Linked DNA regions of Homo sapiens. The protein of the gene in region 1 purifies or fractionates together with the protein of each later gene. This does not show direct contact. Each region holds a gene or a part of one and is shown on either strand. Other genes may lie near its edges.

Region 1 (5,831 bases):
GGCATTGCCTAAGTCAATGATTACTGTAATAATATGCCAAATAGTGGCTTTTTAATTCCATTTTCTTTCTACATTTAATAGCTGGCATTCTACTCTAAGAAAGAGCTTTCCTTTTACCCTCAATGAGTCATGTGTTTATATTAATACATACTAAATCAATAATATGTAGAATACATATTCCTAATTCTTGGGAGATTCCTGTGAAGTATTTAGAAGACAGGGTCACAATGTCTGCAGCTAACTCGGATGTTTCAGCAAAATAACAGTGTAACAAACACACACACACACACACACACACACACGTGGTATTAAAGCAAATATGGAAAATTTTACCAATCATTCAATATAGGAACAATCTAGGGAGATCAGTGTACTATTTTGCAGCCTTTTTGCAGATCTCAATTTTTTCAAAATGTAAGGTAAAAAATATATAGATTTAATTGAAACACCATCCAAACCTTCACCAATATTTGAAAAAAAAATTCAAATAAGCCCACAGATTTAATTTATTAGCACTTAAATATATTCAGATTTTATTACCATCGTCTATAGAAATTTAACACTAGCCATCTGTGCAACTGTCCTCTGAGGCAGAGGAACACCATACGCAAATATTACACACTAAGAACAGTACCACATTCGACAAGACTCTTTCTTGATTCAGTAAACCAAGCTTGACAAACCGGCCAACCCAAGGTGAATGATTACAGTTATAGGGTACAGGGGAAATTATCACCTAGTGAATATTACAAACAATATTAAAATGTTACACAGACTTACAAAAGTTCTGCTTTTTTTTTTCCCTAAGACTGTATGTATATGTGTGTGTGCGTACACAGGTTCACAATATGGAAACCTGTACCTTACAGCACTCTTGAGGTTTCAGCAAAGCATACATTATAGACATATTTGCCATACAGTGCAATTTTATTGTATAAGCCATGAATAATAGTGCACTTAAATCCAAGAGTCACATTCAAATATTATCAAGAGAACAATCCAAATACCCGGCTATTGAAGAAATACACATTCTTTGTTTTTATAAACTAAGTTCTGCAACTACAACATTTTTTTGTGTAGATGGTATTAGATCAGTAAGGTTTTAAACAATGAGATTTAGGGTGCATTTTGTAGAATAATTCACCTCTCCAAAGATAACGTGCATTTTAAAAGTGAAGCAAATGTCTTGGCCAGACAAACACAGGCAGTGTTGTACAACTCAGTTTTATTACAAATCACAAATATAGTTAATCCTTAGACCTGCAGACGGTTAAAGAGAATGGCTCTAGAAGTCAGTAAACTCTCATCAGAATTACTTTGCAGGACAATGTAGTGTTTACAGTGAGCCTCATTATCTTCCACTAAATTGGGCACAAATTACTGTTCCACAGTGTAGTTCAAGAGCTGGAACATTAAGTTTCTTAAAAAGGATTTAGATAACAGGTTCAGGCATTTTAATATCCAGTCCTAGAATTTCAGAGGGTCTCTTCTGGGACTATTGGTTTAAAGGAAGATGCTGTGGACAGTGGATTATAAAGACCAAATGAAGGTAGAAGTAATTTTATTCAAGAAAATAAAGAAAACTGATACCATAAGAAAGTTATAGTATCAGTATATATTTTATCATCTGAGAATAAATGTAAATGGATAAATGAGTCTTTTTTTTTTTTTTTTTTTGAGATGGAGTCTTGCCCTTTCGCCCAGGCTGGAGTGCAGTGGTGCGATCTCGGCTCACTGCAAGCTCTGCCTCCCGGGTTCACACCATTCTCCTGCCTCAGCCTCCTGAGTAGCTGGGACTACAGGCGCCCGCCACCACACCTGGCTAATTTTTTGTATTTTTAGTAGACATGGGTTTTCACCGTGTTAGCCAGGATGGTCTCGATCTCCTGACCTCATGATCCGCCCGCCTTGGCCTCCCAAAGTGCTGGGATTACAGGCGTAAGCCACCATGCCCAGCCTATAATGTTTTTAAAGATGATGGGTAACATAAAAATACTATGTGGTAATAACTTAGAATACTAGGTCTGGAGGAGGAGAACAGGCCTAGCCCATGTGAAAGAATAAGCAGTAGCTAATCTATGTGGTCTTGAGGTATAGTATAAACCTGGAAAGTTCTCTGAACCTCTTCAGTTCTGAGGGTTGCCCAATTAAAACAACAACAACAACAACAACAACAAAACTTTATCAGATGTACTGAATGACTTCATTCTCTGATAAATTTCAAAGCTTCCAGAACAGAGGATCAACTATTGTAACTATTGCCCATTTCTGGTCCAGGAAATACCTTTCTGATAAAGAGTGCTCATAAAACGCTTGTGTTGTTTTCATTCATTCTATCTAGAAGTGGGCAAATACCAAAACCTTTATCCCAGATTAAGGTCGGATAATAAGTGAACCTGATGACCTACTTTAGAATGACAATTCAAACAGCTATCCCTGAAACCAGACAACTACACGAGTTATGCCTTGAAGCAGATCTTTCAAAGTGCAACGAAACATTACTCCTGTTTTTCACTTGAGGAGACTAAATTATGGTCATATCTTTTCCATGATACTGATTTTTTATTTAACATAAACCAAATACTGACTGAATCAAAGACTAAAACCCCACAAAATTTCATCCTTTAAAACAAAAAGCAATAAAATCCCACCCCTAAATCAGGCCTCAAAGTTCAAAGAAATGTTTAAAAATCCCCCATATGGGATCTGACATGAATGTCTATTATTGTCCCCCCCAAGTCTTCTCAAAAATCACTTTAAAATCTTGCTTTGAGACCCTAAGTTTTCTTGGAAATAAAATACATTTATAGATTGTTTTAAACCTACTGAATTTTACTATTTCTGCTTGCTTTCTTCCCATTTAATAAAATCAAAATAAAAAATTTTGACCAAATAAATATTTATTGAAAGGTCCTGCCACCAAAAAAGCTTCAGGTTTTTAAAAACATATAATCAAACAACAATGTTCTTCTGATTAAAAAAAAAAAAAGTACTTATTTAAATCTGAGGATCCTTATATGTTCAATAGAGGATTGTGGTGATCCTTTGTATTTTAAAAATATTATTTGTGGGGCCTACTTTACGTATCTCCTGTATAAAAACCAGCTTTCACTCCACATGAATAGAGAAGATGCTGAATACGCAGGAATCTGATTATCCCTCACGTGATTATTACCGGCCCCTCTGGGGCAATCTGCTTGCTCACTCATTCTGCCACCATTCTCTTCATTCAAGTGTTTAACAGCACATTTATCAAAGGCAGCTCTCCGATGCAATGTTTAACGAGTGTCTTCTCAGGAGTGTATCCGTGTCATTTATTCTTCTCATCCAGGTAAGCACGAACTTCACAGTACTACTAAAAATCTTCTTCAAATTATATTGATAATGGACTTATTTCTGACCGTTTTTGGATTTGGGAAAACTCTAATATTTGGATTACCAAATAACACTTCTGTAGATGCACTGATACCGAAGTTTATTTTTACAACCTGTAAACAGATCTGAAGTTTGAACAATCCCTAATTATAAATTAATACTAAAATGCAAACTTGCCAAAACAGTATAGATTGTTGTCTCAGTGAGACAGAGAAAACGAAATGCGAATACCGTGTTATGACTGTACTCTGGCTCGCACAGCAAATGTGCATCAGGAAGATGGGTCTACCTTGATGGTACATCATCCCTCCATGACCAGACCTAATACAAACTCCCTCACAAGTTTCCACCCATGGAAGCCCTATGGCCGATCAACAGAAGCAGTGGGAGTCACTTCTGGCTTTTTCTTTACTTAGACACAGGGTCTCGCTCTGTTGCTCAGGCTGGAGTGGACTGATGCGATCATAGCTCACTGCAGCCTCAACCTCCTAGGCTCAAGGGATCCTTCTGCCTCAGCTTTCCTAGTGGCTGGGACTATAGGCACACACCACCACACCAGGCTAATGGGAGTCACTTCTAAAGAAAACTCTCTAGATGGTTTTCCTTATATGCCTGTTAGCTGAGAAGAAAAGCCTCCTTCATATACAATCTTGAGACAAAAAGAGAAGAAAACAAAAAGCTCAGCTGTATTAACAGACATAGCAAGCAATTCTGAGGGAGCACAAAAAAGTGAGGCTGTTTCCTTTTTTTTTTTTTTTTTTTAACAAAACTAAGATGGACATTTCACACAACGCAGAGCTACGAGAACATCTCTTATGCTCCTTGCCATGGGATTTTAATGCCCCAAGGTTCATAACTACAGCAAAGAAAGTAAGTCAAAAATAAACTGAGCTTAAAGAAGGTGGCAGGCCAATTTTCCCAAAAAGACTGTGGACTGTGGGCTGCTGTGTAGCCTTTGCTACAAGGCTGAGGAAGCAGAAGAAAGATGAATTGGGCAATTGGTGATGAAAAGTATTTGCCATTTTCAAAGGCTTCTCAGTGTGGCCATAGATTTTGCTAGTCAATTTTTAAAAAATTATATTTTTAGCTCAACACACAGCTCTAAAGCAGGGTTCAGTGTAGTGTGTTCTCTACCGAAATGGTTATATACAGATGGTATGGAAATGGTTTTAAAGATTACTCATAAACTATCCTTTTAAAGAAAAACTAGACTCGGTCATATTTGTTAAAATGAGCAATGTCACCAAACAGAAATGTAGGTGGGAAATACTGAACCACAAACATTTGGAGTTGCAGGCATAGACTAGCAGAGCATGAATAGTCATCACTGTTTCTATAATACTGAAACACTCAAATCTGTTTCTGAGGTTTAAAACACAGAGCTATATTATATTCATAAACTTCCCCCTCCACTTAAGTTATATTTGCCTAACACATAATGGACAAATCAATAGAGCCAAAGCAAATTTGCAAAAGGCTCAGGTCAACATGAAAATTTTAACCTTAGTATTAGGAAACTCTTAGAATACTTACAAATTAAAAAAACACACAATAAAACACACATACACATATAAACCAGTGCAATAAGAACTTTAGACAAGGGCAGTGCATCTCTGGTTTAAGAAAACCTATTTGTAGCTTGATTATAATAAATTAACTCTATTCTAGATGATGGTTTAATTTTACAAGCAGCATTTGAAACACATTGTATATGTATGCTCAAAACCTGAAAACCAATTCACCAGTAACAATTCTCAATCAGTAACAAATTCCTACTTTAATTGTATATTGCACATACTTTTAGTGTCTACGTTAAAATAAATTTAACTCTTCTTAATGTAAATATCGGAGGACCATACCTGTTGCCCTTGTAGAAATAATTTACCTTGAATAACAGATTTTCCTTTCTTGACAAACAAGAATGAGAATAGATTTCAGCTTCGTTAGTCCAAAACTATTTTAAAGAAAATGGCTATTTTATGTGGCGAAGACACTGGAAATGGATTGTTAAACACAAAATCCTTGGTTTATCCATTGTTGCCATTTTGAAAAACATTTCTATGGTCAGAGTGTTTAAAAGTCTGACCCTTTTTTTAAACCACCAAATAGTCCCTAGAGAGATTAGCTGTCTCCTTGACTGCTCTAGAATGCTGTTTGGAGAGTGGACACAGAGAAAAAGCTTTGGATAAAATGGCATGAAACACAAATGGCATTAAATAGGTCATCTATTTCACGTAAAAATAAAATGACTAGCACCTCCTTCCGGCTCCCAAAGTGACAGGCCCTAACAGGCCACATGAAACATGGTTTATGATAGTAAGTTTCATTATTCATACAGTATTGAGAAATCCATTACATTAGGGGGGTCCCACATCTAAAGCCTTCACTTCAAGGCTACCGTGTAAAAGTGAACTGAAGGGCACAAGGAGAGAACGGCGGACACAGGCCCAAGAAGG
Region 2 (7,040 bases), on another chromosome or scaffold:
GTATACAGCCTTAAAATAGAATGTATCCTAAATGCCCAGAAGCACCCTGCCTTTGTAAGATTTGTAACAAAAATTAATATAAATAGGGTTAATAGTTGTAATGGAGTGGTGGACCAAAAAGCCATATCAGTGCTAGCAAAATGGCAGAATTCATGTAGCATCAAAGTTGTCCTACAAGAGCTTTGGTGCCTAATGATGTCTAAAGAAAATGTGACACTCCTTCAGCTGCCTGAAGGACAGGGTTACAGCAGTTAATCAAAAAGAAAAACCATAGGCCCTTCCCCTTCCTGCCCCCCATTCAATTTAAACAGTCTTCATCTTCCACAGTAGTAAATTTTCTAGATATGCCTTGTAGACCTCAAAGGACTAGAAAGGAAGCTCCCATTCAAAGGAAATTTATCTTAAGATACTGTAAATTATACTAATTTTTTGTCCATTTGAAATATGTTAGTTGCGCTGTAACAATCATCCTGCCATGTGTAACATCCTGTCCACATACTTGAATTTCTGGGATCAAGAAAGTATATTTAAATTGATTCCCATCATAACTGGTGGAGTACATCTAACTCAACTGTGAAAAGACATATCACATAATCACCTTGCTGCTGATTAAATGGCCTGGGGCCTCTGCCTTCTCCTGTGGGATTACTGTTGGGTGTACAGGGTACTTTGTCTGTACCCCTGGTTTCCAAAAAAATTAAGGAGGAGGGACGCCTCCTCAACTCATTCTATGAGGCCAGCATCATCCTGATACCAAAACCTGGCAGAGACCCAACAAAAAAAGAAAACTTCAAGCCAATATCCTTGATCAACGATGCAAAATTCCTCAAAAATATACTTGCAAACCAAGTCCAGCAACACATCAAAAAGCTAATCCACCATAATCAAGTAGGCTTCATCGCCAGGATTTACGGTTGGTTCAACATACGCAAATCAATAAATATGATTCATCACATAAGCATAACTAAAGACAAAAATGACATGATTATCTCATGCAGAAAAGCTTTCATTAAAAATTCAACATCCCTTCACGTTAAAAACTCTCAATAAATTAGGTATTGAAGGAACATACCTCAAAATAATAAGAGCCATCTATGACAAACCCACAGCCAACATCATACTGAATGGGCAAAAGCTGAAAGCATTCCCCCCTTGAAAACTGGCAAGGAGGCCCTCTTCCACTACTCCTATTCAACATACTATTGGAAGTCCTGGCCAGAGCAACCAGGCAAGAGGAAGAAATAAAAGGCATCCAAATAGGAAGAGAGGAAGTCAAACTACCCCTGTTTGCAGACAACATGATCCTACATCTAGAAAACCCCATAGTCTTGGCCCAAAAGCTCCTTCAGTTGATAAACAACTTCAGCCAACTCTCAGGATACGAAAATCAATATACAAAAATCACTAGCATTCCTATACACTGACAACAGCCAAGCCAAGATCCAAATCAAAAATGCAATCTCATTCACGATTGCCACAATATGAATAAATCACCTAGAAATACAGCTAACCAGGGAGGTGAAAGATCTGTACAATAAGAATTAGAAGGCTGGGCTCAGTGGCTCACGCCTGTAATCCCAGCACTTTGGGAGGCTGAGGCGGGCAGATCACCTGAGGTCAGGAGTTCAAGACCAGCCTGGCCAACATGGTGAAACCCCATCTCTACTAAAAATACAAAGATTAGCTGGGTGTGGTGGCAGACGCCTGTAATCCCAGCTACTCAGGAGGCTGAGACAGGAGAATCACTTGAACTTGGGAGGCAGAGGTTGCAGTGAGCTGAGATCGCACCACTGCACTCCATCCTGGGCAACAAAGAGCGAAACTCCATCTCAAAAAAAAAAAGAATTAGAAAACACTGCTCAAAGAAATCAGAGTGACACAAATGGAAAAACATCCCATGCTCATGAATATGAAGAATCAGTATCATTGAAATGGCCATACTGCCCAAAGCAATTTGCATATTCAATGCTATTCCTATCAAACTACCAAAGACATTGTTCACAGAACTAGAAAAAACTATTTTAAAATTGATATGGAACCAAAAATAAGCCCAAATAGCCAAGACAAGCCTAAGCAAAAAGAACAAAGCTGACAGCAACATGTTACCCTACTTCAAACTATACTACAGGGCTACAGTAACCAAAACAGCATGGTACTAGTACAAAATCAGACACATAGACCAATGGAACATAATAGAGAGCCCAGAAATAAGCCGCACACCTACAACCATCTGATCTTTGACAAAGCTGACAAAAACAAACAATGGGGAAAGGATTCCCTATTCAATAAATGATGAGATAGCTGGCTAGCCATATGCAGAAGAATGAAACTGGACCCCCTCCTTACACCATATACAAAAATTAATTCAAGATGGATTAAAGACTTAAATGTAAAACCCCAAACTATAAAAACCACAGAAGACAACCTAGGCAATACCATCCCGGACACAGGAATGGGCAAATATTTCATGACAAAGACACTAAGAGCAATCACAACAAAAGCAAAAATTGACAAATGAGATCTAATTAAACTGAAGAGCTTCTGCACAGCAAAAGAAACTCAACAGAGTAAAAAGACAACCTAAAGAATGGGAGAAAATATTTACAAACTATGCATCTGATAAAGGTCTAATATCCAGCATCTATAAGGAACTTAAATTTACAAGAGAAAAACAACAACCCCATTAAAAAGTAGGCAAAGGACATGAACACTTTTCTAAAAAAAAAAAAAAAATACATGTGGCTAACAAGCATATGAAAAAAAGCTCAATATCACTATCATTAGAGAAATGCAAATTAAAACCACAATGAAATACCATCTCACACCAGTCAGAATGGCTATGATTAAAAAGTTAAAAAATAACAGATGCTGGCCAAGTTGAGAAGGGAACACTTATACACTTTTGGTGGGAGTGCAAATTAGTTCAACCATTGTGGAAAGCAGTATGGCAATTCCTCAAAGAGCTAAAAACAGAACTACCATTCAACCCAGCAATCTCATTCCTGGGTATATACCCAGAGGAATATAAATCATTCAGCCATAAAGACACATGCATGGCCAGGCACAGTGGCTCATGCCTGTAATCCCAACACTTTGGGAGGCCAAGGCAGGTGGATAACTTGAGCTCAGGAGTTCGAGACCAGCCTGGGCAACATGGCAAAATCCCTTATCTACCAAAAAAAAAAAAAAAAAAGGCACATGCACACACAAATGTTCATTGCAGCACTGTTCACAATAGCAAAGACATGCAATCAATCTAAATGCCCATCAGTGACAGATTGGATAAACAAAATGTAGTACACATATACCATGGAATACTATGCAGCCATAAAAAAGAATGAGATCATGGTTTTTTGCAGGAACATGGATGGAATTAGAGGCCATTATCCTTAGCAAACTAATGCAAGAACAGAAAACCAAATGAACACAAAGAAGGGAACAACAGACACTGAGGCCTCCTTGAGGGTGGAGAGTTGGAGGAGGAAGAGCAGAAGAAAAAATAACTATTGAGTATTAGGCTTAGTACCTGGGCAACAAAATAATCTGTACAACAATCCCCCATGACATGAGTCTACCTGTAAAACAAACCTGCATGTGTACCCCTGAACCAAAAATAAAAGCTAAGAAAAAAATAATATTTTGCCATAAGGTTTTCAGGTGAAATAGGTCCTATAAACAAAGAAAATGCATGACAAGATATTCTGCATATGCTCCTCTTTCCCTCTTCACATGGTTAATTACCACTCACACTTTGTCCCTCTTCCTCTGGGAAACTTTTCTGAGATCCCTGACCCGGCCATAGTTTCCCATCATAGTTACTCACAGCACAGGTAGCCCATCTCCTTCCAAGCAGTTATCATTTTTTAATAATGAATGCATGCATGAATGAAGAGTGAATGCCGTATTAGTACTAGAATCACTGCAAAAGGTGGTAAAGTCATGCTCCAGACAGACACTGACCAGGAAAGACATATACAGTACAACCTTAGAGATTCAAAGCGGATTCTTCGGGGGGAGCTGCGGCGGTGGCGATGCAGGAGGCCGGCCGGGGCGCGGAGGGACCGACGGACGCACGGGCAGGCGGCCAGGCGCCATGGAGTGCGGCCCTGGGGCCCAGGGGCGCGGGCCGGGGTGGGCTTCCCACGGCGTGACATGGAGACCTGTGGTTGCGAGGCTCCCTGGGGCTCGGCTTGGACCGCGATGGGGCTGGGCCCTGGCCTCCTAACGGGGCTGCCGTCTGGGGCCGTAGCTGGGGGGGCGCCCTCCCCCCTGCCCGCGACTCGGAGCACCCCCACCCCTCCCCTGCCGGGCCAGGCCGGGCGGCGTTGTTGGCTGGGGCCCCGGTGGGGGCCTGGCCCGGGCGGCGCCCGCCATGAACGGGCTGTCGCTGAGTGAGCTCTGCTGCCTCTTCTGCTGCCCGCCCTGCCCCGGCCGCATCGCTGCCAAGCTCGCCTTCCTGCCGCCGGAGGCCACCTATTCCTTGGTGACTGAGCCCGAGCCGGGGCCTGGTGGGGCCGGGGCCGCCCCCTTGGGGACCCTGCGGGCCTCCTCGGGCGCACCCGGGCGCTGGAAGCTGCACCTGACGGAGCGCGCCGACTTCCAGTACAGCCAGCGCGAGCTGGACACCATTGAGGTCTTCCCCACCAAGAGCGCCCGCCGCAACCGCGTCTCCTGCATGTATGTTCGCTGCGTGACTGGTGCCAGGTACACGGTCCTCTTCTCGCACAGCAATGCCGTGGACCTGGGCCAGATGAGCAGCTTCTACATTGGCCTGGGCTCCCGCCTCCATTGCAACATCTTCTCCTACGACTACTCCGGCTACGGTGCCAGCTCGGGTAGGCCTTCCGAGAGGAACCTCTATGCCGACATCGACGCCGCCTGGCAGGCCCTGCGCACCAGGTGAGGGCAACCCTGGGGGCAGCTCAGCCTGGGCACACCCAAGAGGGGACCAGGCCGGGGGCCGGGGGGCGGGCTTCCCTGGGAGGAAGGTGGGCGGCTCTGCAGGAGGGGAGCCACAGTGGATGCACAGGGCCAGAGAGCCGGACAGGCGAGCTTGGGTGTGCAGGTGCAGCCTCCACATGGCTGAGGTGTGGCCAGGCGGTCCTTCCACACCCTGGCCTGTGGAGCCAGGCTCCCTGGGAACCCCTGGCCTGAGGACGGGAAGGGGCTGAGCTTGTCACAGGGGCGTGGATGCCACCCGGCGGGAGGGAGTGGGTGGTGTCTGGGGGTCTGTGCACGTGTGGCTGGGGCCCCATCGGCCGAGGCAGCACTTGGGGCCAAGTGAGGCGAGGCTGCTGCATCCAGGTCCCGAGGCCTGGCCCATGAGGCCCTGTGGCTGCGGAGCTTGGCCATCCTGGGGCAGGGCCTGCAGGGTCAGGTGCAGACCCCCAGCACACATCCAAGGTCTGGGCCAGCCTCCATTCCAGATCCAGCCCTCCTAGTCATCCAGGTCCCCAGCCCTGCGCTTGCCTGGGGCCTTCACTGGTGTTTGAGCACCGCCCGGGCCAGTGCTGCTTTGGATGAGGAGACCCGGGTGGGCCTCTGGTGACCTTTCCTGCTCGCCATCCACTGGGGCTGTCTCGTCCTGGCCCTGCCCAGCCCACTGGTCTGACCTGCTCCCGCAGGGACCAGGCATAGCTCTGAGAAGTCAGAGGCCCTGGGGAGGTGGGGTCCTCGTTGCCTTGGTGATATTGCAGGCAGTCCCTGCTGTGGGCCTGGGAGCTGGTCCCCTGGCACCACCCTGGCTCCAGGGGCCTCCCAGCAGTGTGGGGCGCTGACACCAACCACTTCATGCGACTTCCTCGGCCCCTCCTGTCTCTACTGCCTGGGCCACTGGCAGAGTCACACCCGCCATGGCCAGCTCTGAGCTCTGTCTGCTCGGCCATCTGTCCTGCTGCCACTTTGTCCTGCAGGAACCTAGGCCCAGAGCTGTGAGGGGGAGGCCAGAGCATGCCCAGGGCCTCCACTGGGGATGTGTCCTGTTCGTTTGAGTGGTGACATCCAGGTGGCAGCTGGGGGCTCCTGCCTGGTAGCAGGTGACAGGGCTGGGCTGGCTCAGCACACTACTGACCATGGCTGCCAGGGAGCAGGCCAGGGAGGCTAAGGCAGAGCTGGGGCCACAGGCACAAGCCAGGCAGCATCCTTTGGGGCATGGGTGAGTGGCGAGCTGTGGAGTGCTGCCAGGAGGCTGGGATTCCAGGCCAGGGAGGGGGACAGCCCTGCTGGTGGAGTCCGAATGCCAGGCAGAGGGGACGCACACCTGCCCATGCTCCTGCCTTGCAAGAGGGCATCTGCCTGGGATCAGAGCCTGGAGCGTGTGGGAGGAGAGTTGTGGGGTCCCGGCATGGGCAGGGTGGCAGGTGGGTCCCGCGTGGTTGGGACTGGGCACGAGGAGGCCTTGTAACTGGTGCTGGATCAGCTGGGTCACGGGCTGCACACCAGTGACCTGGGGGTGGGGGTGGCCCTGGGTGGGAGCTGGTGATGCTGAGGTGGCCGAGGACTTGTCCACTCCCAAGGGAAGGTGCTGGTGGGAGGGGGTGCCACCTCCGCAGCCACGACCCTCGATGCTGACCTGGGTTGCACTGGCATCTCATTGGGCGTGGGGACTCCGAGAGTCCAAAATTGGGTGGAGACATTTGGGGACACAGCTGCCTGAATTCCTCATGGCCAAGGGGGTGGGCAAGGGCTGCAGGGAGGAAGAGTGTCCGCTGTCCTGGCCAGTGCACCAGGAACGGCTTTCTAACCCGGGCAGGAAGGCGTGAAGCATTCAGGATGTGGGGGGCACACAGTTCCCAGTGTGCACCTAGGGGTGATCAGGAGGAGAGGCGCCAGGGCCTCCCCTACCTCCGCCCCAGGGCCACTCCGTAGGCGGGATCCCTACAGATCCTAGCTAGGAAACGCCAGGGAACGGCAGCGCCAGGGAACGGGGTGGGGCCGCTGGCTTCGCCCACCGCCGCGGTGTTGAGGGCTGGGGGTGGCCCTCGGGACTGGTGTGGAGCCTGGGCCTGACCCACTGACTTGGCTGAGTGGGGAGACTGGAG

What was found. Proteins that work in one complex are often made in the same cells at the same time.
Region 2: the proteins of MTMR9 (region 1) and CENPF purify together in Homo sapiens (co-immunoprecipitation; 2 studies listed by BioGRID and IntAct, with this or other methods). This does not show direct contact.

Annotation. Positions count from the first base shown.
Region 1 is NC_000008.11:11,322,816-11,328,646, reverse strand, and holds the end of MTMR9 (myotubularin-related protein 9), read right to left. Parts: 3' UTR 501-5,831; downstream 1-500. UniProt on the Homo sapiens protein: Acts as an adapter for myotubularin-related phosphatases. Increases lipid phosphatase MTMR6 catalytic activity, specifically towards phosphatidylinositol 3,5-bisphosphate and MTMR6 binding affinity for phosphorylated phosphatidylinositols.
Region 2 is NC_000001.11:214,606,173-214,613,212, reverse strand, and holds part of CENPF (centromere protein F), read right to left. Parts: intron 4,900-7,040; exon of another isoform or gene 4,010-4,899; intron 3,194-4,009; exon of another isoform or gene 1-3,193. UniProt on the Homo sapiens protein: Required for kinetochore function and chromosome segregation in mitosis. Required for kinetochore localization of dynein, LIS1, NDE1 and NDEL1.